3 separate regions of the Homo sapiens genome follow, and all the other regions are reported to be linked to region 3. The links are microRNA targets in miRTarBase. Many come from high-throughput screens and were not tested one by one. Region 3 holds a microRNA gene; each other region holds the end of a gene's coding sequence.
The links. The annotated mature microRNA hsa-miR-3692-3p reads GUUCCACACUGACACUGCAGAAGU and lies in region 3 at 1,201-1,224, opposite strand. An mRNA with a match to its seed (bases 2 to 7 or 8) in the 3' UTR can be bound and repressed. Matches are read on the target gene's strand: a 7mer-m8 pairs with bases 2 to 8, a 7mer-A1 pairs with bases 2 to 7 and ends in A, and an 8mer does both.

Region 1 (3,250 bases), not on the chromosome of region 3:
ATCAGGGCTCCACGTGGTGTGGGGGGACCAGCTGGACCACAGGCAGCTCCTTGACCTGGGCCCAGTTCAGCATCCTCATCCGGCCTCTGTTTGAGTCCTTCAACGGGATGGTGTCCACGGCAAGTGTGCACACCCTCCGCCAGACCTCACTGGCCTGGCTGGACCAGTACTGCTCTCTGCCCGCTCTCCGGCCAAGTACGTGAGCCATCTCCCTGCCTGCTAGAGGGACCCAGCCTCGGGGGTGGAGGGAGCATTCCACCCTGCTTAGATCCCACATCCAGCTTGCCATCAACACAGCCTAGGGTTGTGGCCACCCCGCATCCCCCAGATGGTCCTCTGGCCACCAGACGCCTGTAGACAGAGGTTCTAGGAGGGGGTGACAGTCTTGCCAACTAATACCTCCCCCTATCCCTTTGGTTCCACATCCAAGGGTAGGGCCCTGACCCCAGGAAGTGTCTGTCTCTCTCTCTCTGTCTCCCACCCAGCTGTCCTGAACTCCCTACGCCAGCTGGGCACATCTACCAGTATCCTGACCGACCCGGGCCGCATCCCTGAGCAAGCCACACGGGCAGTCACAGAGGGCACCCTTGGCAAACCTTTATAGTCCTGGCCAGACCCTGCTGCTCACTCAGCTGCCCTGGGGGCTGCTTTCCCTGGGCACGGGCTCCAGGGATCATCTCTGGGCACTCCCTTCCTGCCCCAGGCCCTGGCTCTGCCCTTCCCTGGGGGGTGGAGCAGGGTCCAGGTTTCACACTTGCCACCTCCTGGAGGTCAAGAAGAGCAGAGTCCCCGTCCCTGCTCTGCCACTGTGCTCCAGCACCGTGACCTTGGGTGACTCGTCCGCTGTCTTTGGACCGCTGTGTTTCAATCTGCAAAATGGGGATGGGGAAGGTTCAATCAGCAGATGACCCCCAGGCCTTGGCAGCTGTGACATTGGGGGCCTAGGCTGGCAACTCCGGGGGCTCAACGGTGGAAAGAGGAGGATGCTGTTTCTCTGTCACCTCCACTTGCTCCCCGACAGGTGGGGCACAGACCTCTGTTCCTGAGCAGAGAAGCAGAAAAGGAGGTTCCCTCTCTCTGCTCCTTCACTGCTGACCCAGAGGGGCTGCAGGATGGTTTCCCCTGGGAGAGGCCAGGAGGGCCTGATCCCAGGAGACACCAGGGCCAGAGTGACCACAGCAGGGCAGGCATCATGTGTGTGTGTGTGTGTGGATGTGTGTGTGTGGGTTTTGTAAAGAATTCTTGACCAATAAAAGCAAAAACTGTCTGCTGGTTTGTTGGTGTGCTGGTCAGTGTCTCACACTGGGATGGAGAGAGAGCCTGTTGGCAGTGGGAAGTGGCTTTGCAGAGGGCCTGGGCATTTACTCTGAGCTGGAAGCAGCTGGAGGGCTTTGAGTGGAGGTGGGACAAGATCAGATGTAGTGGTGGCGAGCGCCTGTAGTCCCAGCTACTCAGGAGGCTGAGGCAGGAGGATCGCTTGAGCCCAGGAGTTCGAGGCTGCAGTGAGCTATGATAGCACCACTGCACTGTAGAGTGGGCAACAGAGTGAGACCCTGTCTCAAATAACAACAACAAAAAAGGCTGGGCACAGTGGCTCACACCAGTAATCCCAGCACTTTGGGAGGCCAAGGCGGGAGGATCATAGACCTCATCTCAGTAATAAAAAAGAGAAAAATAAATAAAAGAAAATCGGATGTAACTTTTTTTTTTTGAGACGGAGTCTCGCACTGTCACCCAGGCTGGAGTGCAGTGGCCCGATCTCGGCTCACTGCAAGCTCTGCCTCCTGGGTTCATGCCATTCTCCTGCTTCAGCCTCCCAAGTAGCTGGGACTACAGGCACCCGCCACCACGTCCAGCTGATTTTTTTTTTTTTTGTATTTTTAGTAGAGACGGGGTTTCACCGTGTTAGCCAGGATGGTCTCGATCTCCTGACCACGATTGTGATCCACCCACCTCAGCCTCCCAAAGTGCTGGGATTACAGGCGTGAGCCACCGCGCCCTGCCAGATGTAACTTTAAAAAAAAAAATTTTTTTTTTTTTGAGACAGAGTCTCGCTCTGTTGCCCAGGCTGGAGTGCAGTGGCGCAATCTCGGCTCACTGCAACCTTCGCCTCCCGGGTTCAAGCGATTCTCCTGCCTCAGCCTCCTGAGTAGCAGGGATTACAGGTGCGCACCACCATGCCCAGCTAATTTTTGTATTTTTAGTAGAGACGGGGTTTCACCATGTTGGTCAGGCTGGTCTTGAACTCCCGACCTTGTGATCTGCCCTCCTCAGCCTCCCAAAGTGCTGGGATTACAGGTGTGAGGCTGCCGCGCCCAGACAAAAAAATTTTTCTTATAAGAATAGAGTCAGCAGCCGGGTGTGGTGGCTCACGCCTGTAATCCCAGCACTTTGGGAGGCCGAGGCAGGCGGATCACAAGGTCAGGAGTTCGAGACCAGCCTGGCTAATATGGCAAAACCCGGTCTTTACTAAAAATACAAAAATTAGCCACATGTGCTGACACACGCCTGTAATCCCAGCTACTCAGGCTGGTCTTGAACTTTTGGGTTCAAGCAATGCTCCCGCCTTGGCCTCCCAAAGTGCCAGGATTACAGGCATGAGCCATGGCGTCTGGCCAGATGTAACTTTTTTACAGGAATCCCCTGGGTGCTGAGTTGAGACTAGGTGGATGCAGGGAGACCAGTTAGAGGACAGTTGCAGTCATCCAGGTGAGAGGTGATAGATTTGCTTCCTGGAGCTCCTCCCTCCATGGCCAGGAGACAGTTTGGAGAGGCTCGCTACCTTCAGAGTTGGAAGAAGGCAGAGCTGGGACCAAGGAGTGGAACCGACAGGGCATCCACTGGAACCACCCAGAAGGAGAATGTGCTCCCTTGGCGGGGCAGGTATGGAGGGTAGTGACCTCCCCGCTATGAGAGGTATGCATGCAGAGAGTGGATGGCCACTTAGTTGGGATGTCTTAGAAAAAACTGACAGCGGCCTGTGCGGTTGCTCACGCCACCCAACACTTTGGGAGGCCGAGGCGGGTAGATCACCTGAGGTCAGGAGTTCCGGACCAGCCTGGCCAACTTGGTGAAATCCCGTCTCTACTAAAAATACAAAAAAAATTAGCCGGGCATGGTGGCAGGTGCCTGTAACCCAGCTACTCGGGAGGCTGAGGCAGGAGAATCCCTTGAACCCAGGAGGTGGAGGTTGCAGTGAGCAGAGATTGCGCTACTCCACTCCAGCCTGGGTGACAGAGTGAGACTTCAT
Region 2 (3,247 bases), not on the chromosome of region 3:
TCCAACTTGCGCCCCATGGTACTGTGGCAGGCAGAAATGGGAGAAGGTGGCGTCGCGCGTGTCGGAGGGAACGGCAGAACGCACGCTTGGCGTATTATAGTGGGAAAGGGCACAGCCTCAACTCAGCACCCGCAACTCACTCAGCACTCCCGACTCAGCACCCGCGACTCAAGCACCCCCGCTATCCCCCTGGAGGCCCGACCGAACGCCCTCCCACCTGAAACCCAGGTAGCGCACCCTTCTCCCCACGTCCCAGACCAGGTCAGTGCTGCCACTCTTCGTCCCCCAATTTCCTCTAGACCCACCAGAATGCGGGTTAATGTCCGAGAGTGCCCTTCGGGCGGCCCTCCACGTGCAATCCGGACCTAGCTTTCGGCCGGCACTCGCCACAGAATCGTTCCACGCAGGCGCACGGGTAGCGCTAGCCTCGCGGCCCCGCCTCTTCCTGTTGCGCCTAGTCGGCCGCCGCACCCGGAACTTACGCTCGCCCTGGGAACGCCAGCGGAGCCGGCGGCGGCGAGTAGGGGGCAATTCGAAGGAGACGCGCAGCTTACACCCGCGGCGGGTGGAGGGAGCAATGTGACGAAACCATTGAGCTTGACCGACCTTCCCTCATGGAGTTGGCTTTTAGCCTCACGGCCGGTTTCTGTTGGGTGAAAGCCGCACCTTCTCCTCGAACCAGGGCCCGACATTGGAGCCCTCTCCCTCGCATCCACTGCCCTAGTCCAGCGTCAAGATCACGGAATTCCAGGCTGGGCGCAGTGGCTCACGCCTGTAATCCCAGCACTTTGGGAGGCTGAGGTGGGTGGATCACTTGAGGTCAGGAGTTCGAGACCAGCCTGGCCAATATGGTGAAACCCTGCTTCTACTAAAAATACAAAATTAGCCGGGCGTGGTGGCGGGCGCCTATAATCCCAGCTACTCGAGAGGCTGAGGCAGAATTGCTTGAGCCCGGGAGGCGGAGGTTGCAGTAAGCCGAGATCGTGCCACTTAAGCCTCACCAAGAGCGAAACTCCACCTCAAAAAAAAAAAACAAAAAAACCAGCCGGGCTCGGTGGCTCACGCCTGTAATCCCAGCACTTTGGGAGGTCGAGGCGGGCGGATCACGAGGTCAAGAAATCCGAGACCATCTTGGCCAACCTTGTCTCTATTAAAAATACAAAAATTAGTTGGGCATGGTGGCTGGCGCACGCGTGTAGTCCCAGCTACTCGGGAGGCTGAGGCAGGAGAATCGCTTGAACCCGGGAGGGGGAGGTTGCAGTGAGCTGAGATCGCGCCACTGTACTCCAGCCTGGCAACAAAGCGAGACTCCATCTCAAAACAAACAAACAAAAAAAACCGTGGAATTCCATGCCACTTACCTCCTCCTCTTTGCCCCTTTTTTAAAAATCTTTTTATAGAGACGGGTTGTAGGGGGTGGCGTCTCACTATATTGCCAGGGCTGGTCTAGAACTCCTGGGCTTAAGCGATCCTCCTGCCCCCACCTTTGTGCTGAGATTACAGGCTGTGAGCCACCGTGCCCCGCCCTCCCAGCACCTTCCTTGATGCTGACCCCTGCTCAGCCCCTCAATTAAGGTGCTGCACTGCACCTCATTCGCAGGGGGCCTCTTCGCCGGAACTCGCTTTCAGGTGGGTCTACAATTAGTTGGGAAACAACGGGTTGCAAGGCTGACCTGGTCTGGGACATGAGAAGGGGTGAACTACAAGGGTTTCAAGGTTGGAGGACGTTAGGTCGGGCCTCCGGGGGTGTGGGATTGAGGCTGTGTTCTTCCACAAATTGCATCCCAATTTTGCACAACTTAGCAAGAAAACCCCCCTCAGCCTTCCTAGAAACTAACATTAAGGTAGTGGTTAGGTGTTAAAACCGTTCCATGTACTTCACTGGTTTAACTTGACAACCGTATGAGGTATACATGAGATATCTGCATCCCACCAAAGTTAAACAACTTGCTCAAGGTCACAGAGCCATTAAGCGGCGGTGCCCGCAGTTTTGCAGCCTCTCATTTTCCACAGGTGGAAGTCAACGTTGGCAAGGCACATACTGCACCCACACACAGAACCCAGTTACTCAGTGGGGTATCAGGACACCACGTAGCCCTTAATTTTCAACTATACAGGTGCCAGGCTCCTGCCGCACACACTCATCCACCTGCACCTACACCCACACTGAACCAGAGCACTAAAATACAAGGAAACTTTTATTTTCAATTTTCATCAAGAAATTTGCTGTGGTTTTTTATGCTTTTGGTTTTTTCCTTTTTTTTTTTTTCCACTTTATTTCATTTAGCCGCTCAGTGGCTAGAGCCGCTGGGTTCCTGGTATTAAAAAGATGCCAACAGAGGTAGCTGTGTCTCGCCCAGGGGCCCAGCCCACTCTGAATACCCCCCAAAAAGGAGAAAAGAAAACACAAAATAAACCAACAAAATAAAACCAAAAGGAGGAAAAAATTCAGATCATTTTCTTCAAGCCTGGCAGGAACCCACAACAGTTTGTGTGTAACAGGCGTTACAGTGGGGAGAAGCCAGGGTCCAGAAGGCCAGCCCGCCAGCTCCTGCAGATGGCGCCAGCGCTACTGCTGCATGTCTCTTCTGCAGGAAGGGCACCACTGCCCCTCACTCCCTCCCCTCCCCCAGTGCACTGGGGCTGTTCCTTTACAACATGGAAGATGGGCAGAAGGAAGGTGAGGGTCTCTCAGGCCCCCAGGGGAGAAGCTGGGACAAGAGAAAGTGAGGAAGGTCACTGCTCAGCGGTGGAGGTGGTATCAGTCTGCATCTTCACTGCTGCTGGGCTACCTAGAGAAGGAGACCCGAGGAGTCAGAATTCCAGATGATAGGAATCCACCCAATCTCAAGGGAATTCACTGATAGGCCACCCACCCAGTATGTAAAGCTAGGGACATACAGCAAAGTTACAAGCTCCAGAATGGTTCTGCAGGAAGAGGTGGTGTCAAGAAGAAAATGGTCCTACCTGCTGTGGGGTAGGTTCGGGTGCCCGGTTTGCCAGGCGGCTGAGAATGTTACGCTCTGACATCTGTAACCTCACAGCAACTGGGGGAATTCGGGCAATGGTAGCTGGGAGTCGAGTCACATCAGCTTTCATGTCACTCAGCAGTTCTTCCAGCTGTTTCAGAACTGCATAGGGAGAAAAAGAGGTGGTGAGCTGTGGTGGCCCAGACTGAGCTCCCTCTACCCTAGTGGACCAGCCCCCCATCACTTCTCAGTGACCAAGTAACTGTGATGTATTGTCT
Region 3 (3,250 bases):
CTCACCTAAAACAATGCCCGTGGTATCGACTATTATCCTTGGCAAAGTGCCTTTGCATTAAAACATGGTGACAGCATTTCTCGGCCCTGATGTTGGGGAGAGTTCCTACCATGTAATTATCCAGCTCAATTAGAAGACAAGGTCAGAACAAACAGATCCAGAGGGAAGGTCCATGCCTGCTAGACACACAGATGTGGTCCCACATCATTTTCTTTTTTCTTTTTTTCTTTTTAGGTAGCCTGTTACTGTTTCATACACATGGTTTTCAAAGTAACAGGCAGCCAGATAGTAAGACTGCAGGGAGCAAATGAAAATTCACATTTTTTTGATTGAGTACCTATATTGCAGGCAGTTTCACATATAACATTTCATATAATGTCTACAGAAATGTACACAGCTAATTGTCTATGACATTGGTATTACTGAGACCATCTCACAGATGAGGAAACTAAGGTTCATTAATTTGACTGATAAGACTTATAAGAGGTTCATTACTTTGAGCCTGGTTTAGCTAATAAGTTTCATAACCAGAAGTCAATCAGATGTGGCCGCCATCAAAGCCCATGGGCCCAAGGCATGGTCTCTCAATTGTACCACAATGAGGCCTACACTTCTGTTTTGCACTCTACACATTTTCTTAGTGGAATACAATAACAGCTGTACCTGTTTTCACCTTTTTATAAGGATCTCAATGATCCTCATTAAATGTAATTAAGAACACAGTGAAACCTGAAACTATTCTGCGTGAAGGTGCCTTGTCCAGTCTGGGGAGAAGACAAGCTCGGAGTCTTGGGTGACAAAGTCGCTCATTGATGGATTGCCAGCAGTCTGGTAGTAACGCCTTAGTGACTGAAGGTCAAGAACATTTCTCTTGGGCTCCGCTTCCCAATTCCAGTTGAAGAATAACAAGCTCTGTGGTTTCTACACAACAGAAACCACAGATTCCCAGGGGCCCTGTCAATCAAGCTTGACACTAAATGGTGATGACTGCTCCTGTTATTGCAAAATACATGTATACTAAACAAAGACCGTACTGGTTAGTTTTGCTTAAATACTGGAGGATTCTGACCAGTACAATGCTAAAACATAAACTTTCATTTATGAAAAAAGATAAACTTTCTAAAATTCCCAGGTTATACTCAAGAAGTAACTTGCTCCCTGTGAAGAGAGGGTGGGGTTGCAGAGACTCCAGAGATCTCCACTTCTGCAGTGTCAGTGTGGAACTGTATCTATTGCTCCAGTATCCACTCCTGACCAGCAGGAATGGCAAAGAACCTCAGAAGAGTACAGGTGGTAGGTGCTGAGTAAAACTGGAAGTCTGAGTGTGTCTCCTAGACACTAGCAACTACAAGGATATACTTTCAATGAAACTCTTTGAACTCATTGGGAGAAACCTGAAAAATACCATGTGCTGTTGAGGAATTAATGCCCACTCCCACCCCCAGTCTTCATCTAATTATGCTTTTATAATTAATTAATTAATGCCCACTCCCACCCCCAGTCTTCATCTAATTGTGCTTTTTAAATTAATTAATTAATGCCCACTCCCACCCCCAGTCTTCATCTAATTGTGCTTTTTTAATTAATTAATTAATGCCCACTCTCACCCCCAGTCTTCATCTAATTGTGCTTTTTAATTATTTTATTTTATTTTATTTTATTTTTTTGAGATGAAGTCTTGCTCTGTCGCCCAGTCTGGAGTGCAGTGGTGCGACCTCGGCTCACTACAAGCTCCGCCTCCCGGGTTTTTGCCATTCTCCTGCCTCAACCTCCCGAGTAGCTGGGACTACAGGCACCTGCCACCACGCCTGGCTAATTTCTTTGTATTTTTAGTAGAGACAGGGTTTCACCATGTTAGCCAGGATGGTCTCGATCTCCTGACCTCGTGATCTGCCCGCCTCAGCCTCCCAAAGTGCTGGGATTACAGGTGTGAGCCACTGCGCCCACCCTATCGTGCTTTTTAAATTAATTGATTAATGCCCACTCCCATCCCCAGTCTTCATCTACTTGTGCTTTTCCAAGTATATTCATCTATGGTTAAACTTTCATATCATTTCTTTACTTTTCTTTTAAGCCACACACTTCTGAGATTAAAAAACAACAACAACAAAAAAACTGTTCAGCTCATTTTGAAATACAACAGAAGTATTCCTGAGGACTTCCCCATGGCAAACACGATTATTAACTGATTACTAAAAAGAGAAGGGCAAAAGGCAAAATAATGGACATTAGATCTAGGGAAAAATGGTGGAAACAACCTTAAAGAATACGGTGGAGAAACATCTGGAAAAAGCATATTTAATTAGAGAACACCAAGAGGGACTGAAACAAAGGAAATCATGCCTGGCTGGCCTGATGGAAGGCTTGGAAGGTGTGACTGCCATGAAAGCTACAATCAATTAAATAAGTGCCACCTTTCTTGAATTTTGCCAAGCAGATGGCAAAGTTGGAGAATCAACAGGGAAACTGCAGAGTGATACAATGGAGAGAGAGAAGGATCAGAAAGCCCCTCCTACAGCTACATCCCTATCCCTCTTAGGCTTGCGTCATACATTGTCCAGTTGGCTTCAACATTCAGAATAACTGGAGCCCTAAAGAACTGTCAAGTTCTGAGAACAGTCTTTCCATTTCCAGAAACAACTTCCTGAGAGACCGTTACATGGCTGCCAAGAAAACACTGCTTCATGTTTAAAGCACTTGTGAAACTTGAGGTCAAAAAGCAGAGGTCCACCAAGCAAGGCCACAGAAAAACAGCTTGAAAATGCTCTAGCTGAGCCTATACGCTCTGTGGCAAAACCTCGTGACTGTAGTGCTTACTCTGGGCAGTTCTGGAAGGCTTTTTCTACCAGAAGTTTCCATCAGTTGAGGTTTTGACTCTTACTCTCCCCTGGGTGGAGACTCTGAGGCTGCATGGTGCAAGATGAAAGGACTTCAATATTGTCTGACTATAAGAGCAAGCTCTGCAAAGCACTTTTTTGAAGAGATTTTTGAATGGAAAATCTGGGTGGGAAAATAGGAAAACAGGTCAGTTGAGCAAAGGAATATCAACTATTCCTGTTCGCCACATGAGCTGAGAATGCAGCCTCTCCTTCAGAGTAGAAACAGGAGCTGGGGAGCTCCTGGAGTCGATGGGAGGTGCCCAAGTCTGGTAGGAGATGGGGGCACTGATGCAGCCATGGCCCCCCGGCTGGTGTAATCTGCTTTCAGGCACCCAGTTGCAGGGTGGCTCAGCTGAGGGTCACCAGCTTGC

Region 1: the mRNA of MLXIPL is a reported target of hsa-miR-3692-3p. Seed matches in the 3' UTR shown: 7mer-A1 at 970-976.
Region 2: the mRNA of CHD4 is a reported target of hsa-miR-3692-3p. Seed matches in the 3' UTR shown: 7mer-A1 at 2,267-2,273.

The regions. Positions count from the first base shown.
Region 1 is chr7:73,591,219-73,594,468 of GRCh38, reverse strand. It overlaps MLXIPL (MLX interacting protein like), which reads left to right. Exons shown (of 17, transcript NM_032951.3): 16 at 66-195; 17 at 486-1,267. The coding sequence ends at 604. Among named protein-coding and RNA genes, the nearest start is that of TBL2, 14 kb to the right of the region's middle.
Region 2 is chr12:6,567,902-6,571,148 of GRCh38, forward strand. CHD4 (chromodomain helicase DNA binding protein 4) reads right to left here. Exons shown (of 40, transcript NM_001273.5): 39 at 2,968-3,131; 40 at 2,181-2,792. The coding sequence ends at 2,775. It overlaps NOP2 (NOP2 nucleolar protein), which reads right to left and starts at 390. Exons shown (of 16, transcript NM_001258308.2): 1 at 306-390; 2 at 1-21. The coding sequence starts at 17. It overlaps CHD4-AS1 (CHD4 antisense RNA 1), which reads left to right and starts at 470. Exons shown (of 3, transcript NR_199067.1): 1 at 470-1,629. RefSeq lists enhancers at 240-861, 685-734, 2,402-2,696.
Region 3 is chr6:157,527,149-157,530,398 of GRCh38, reverse strand. MIR3692 (microRNA 3692) reads right to left here and starts at 1,267; the gene lies at 1,199-1,267. All of the region lies in intron 1 of ZDHHC14 (zDHHC palmitoyltransferase 14), which reads right to left.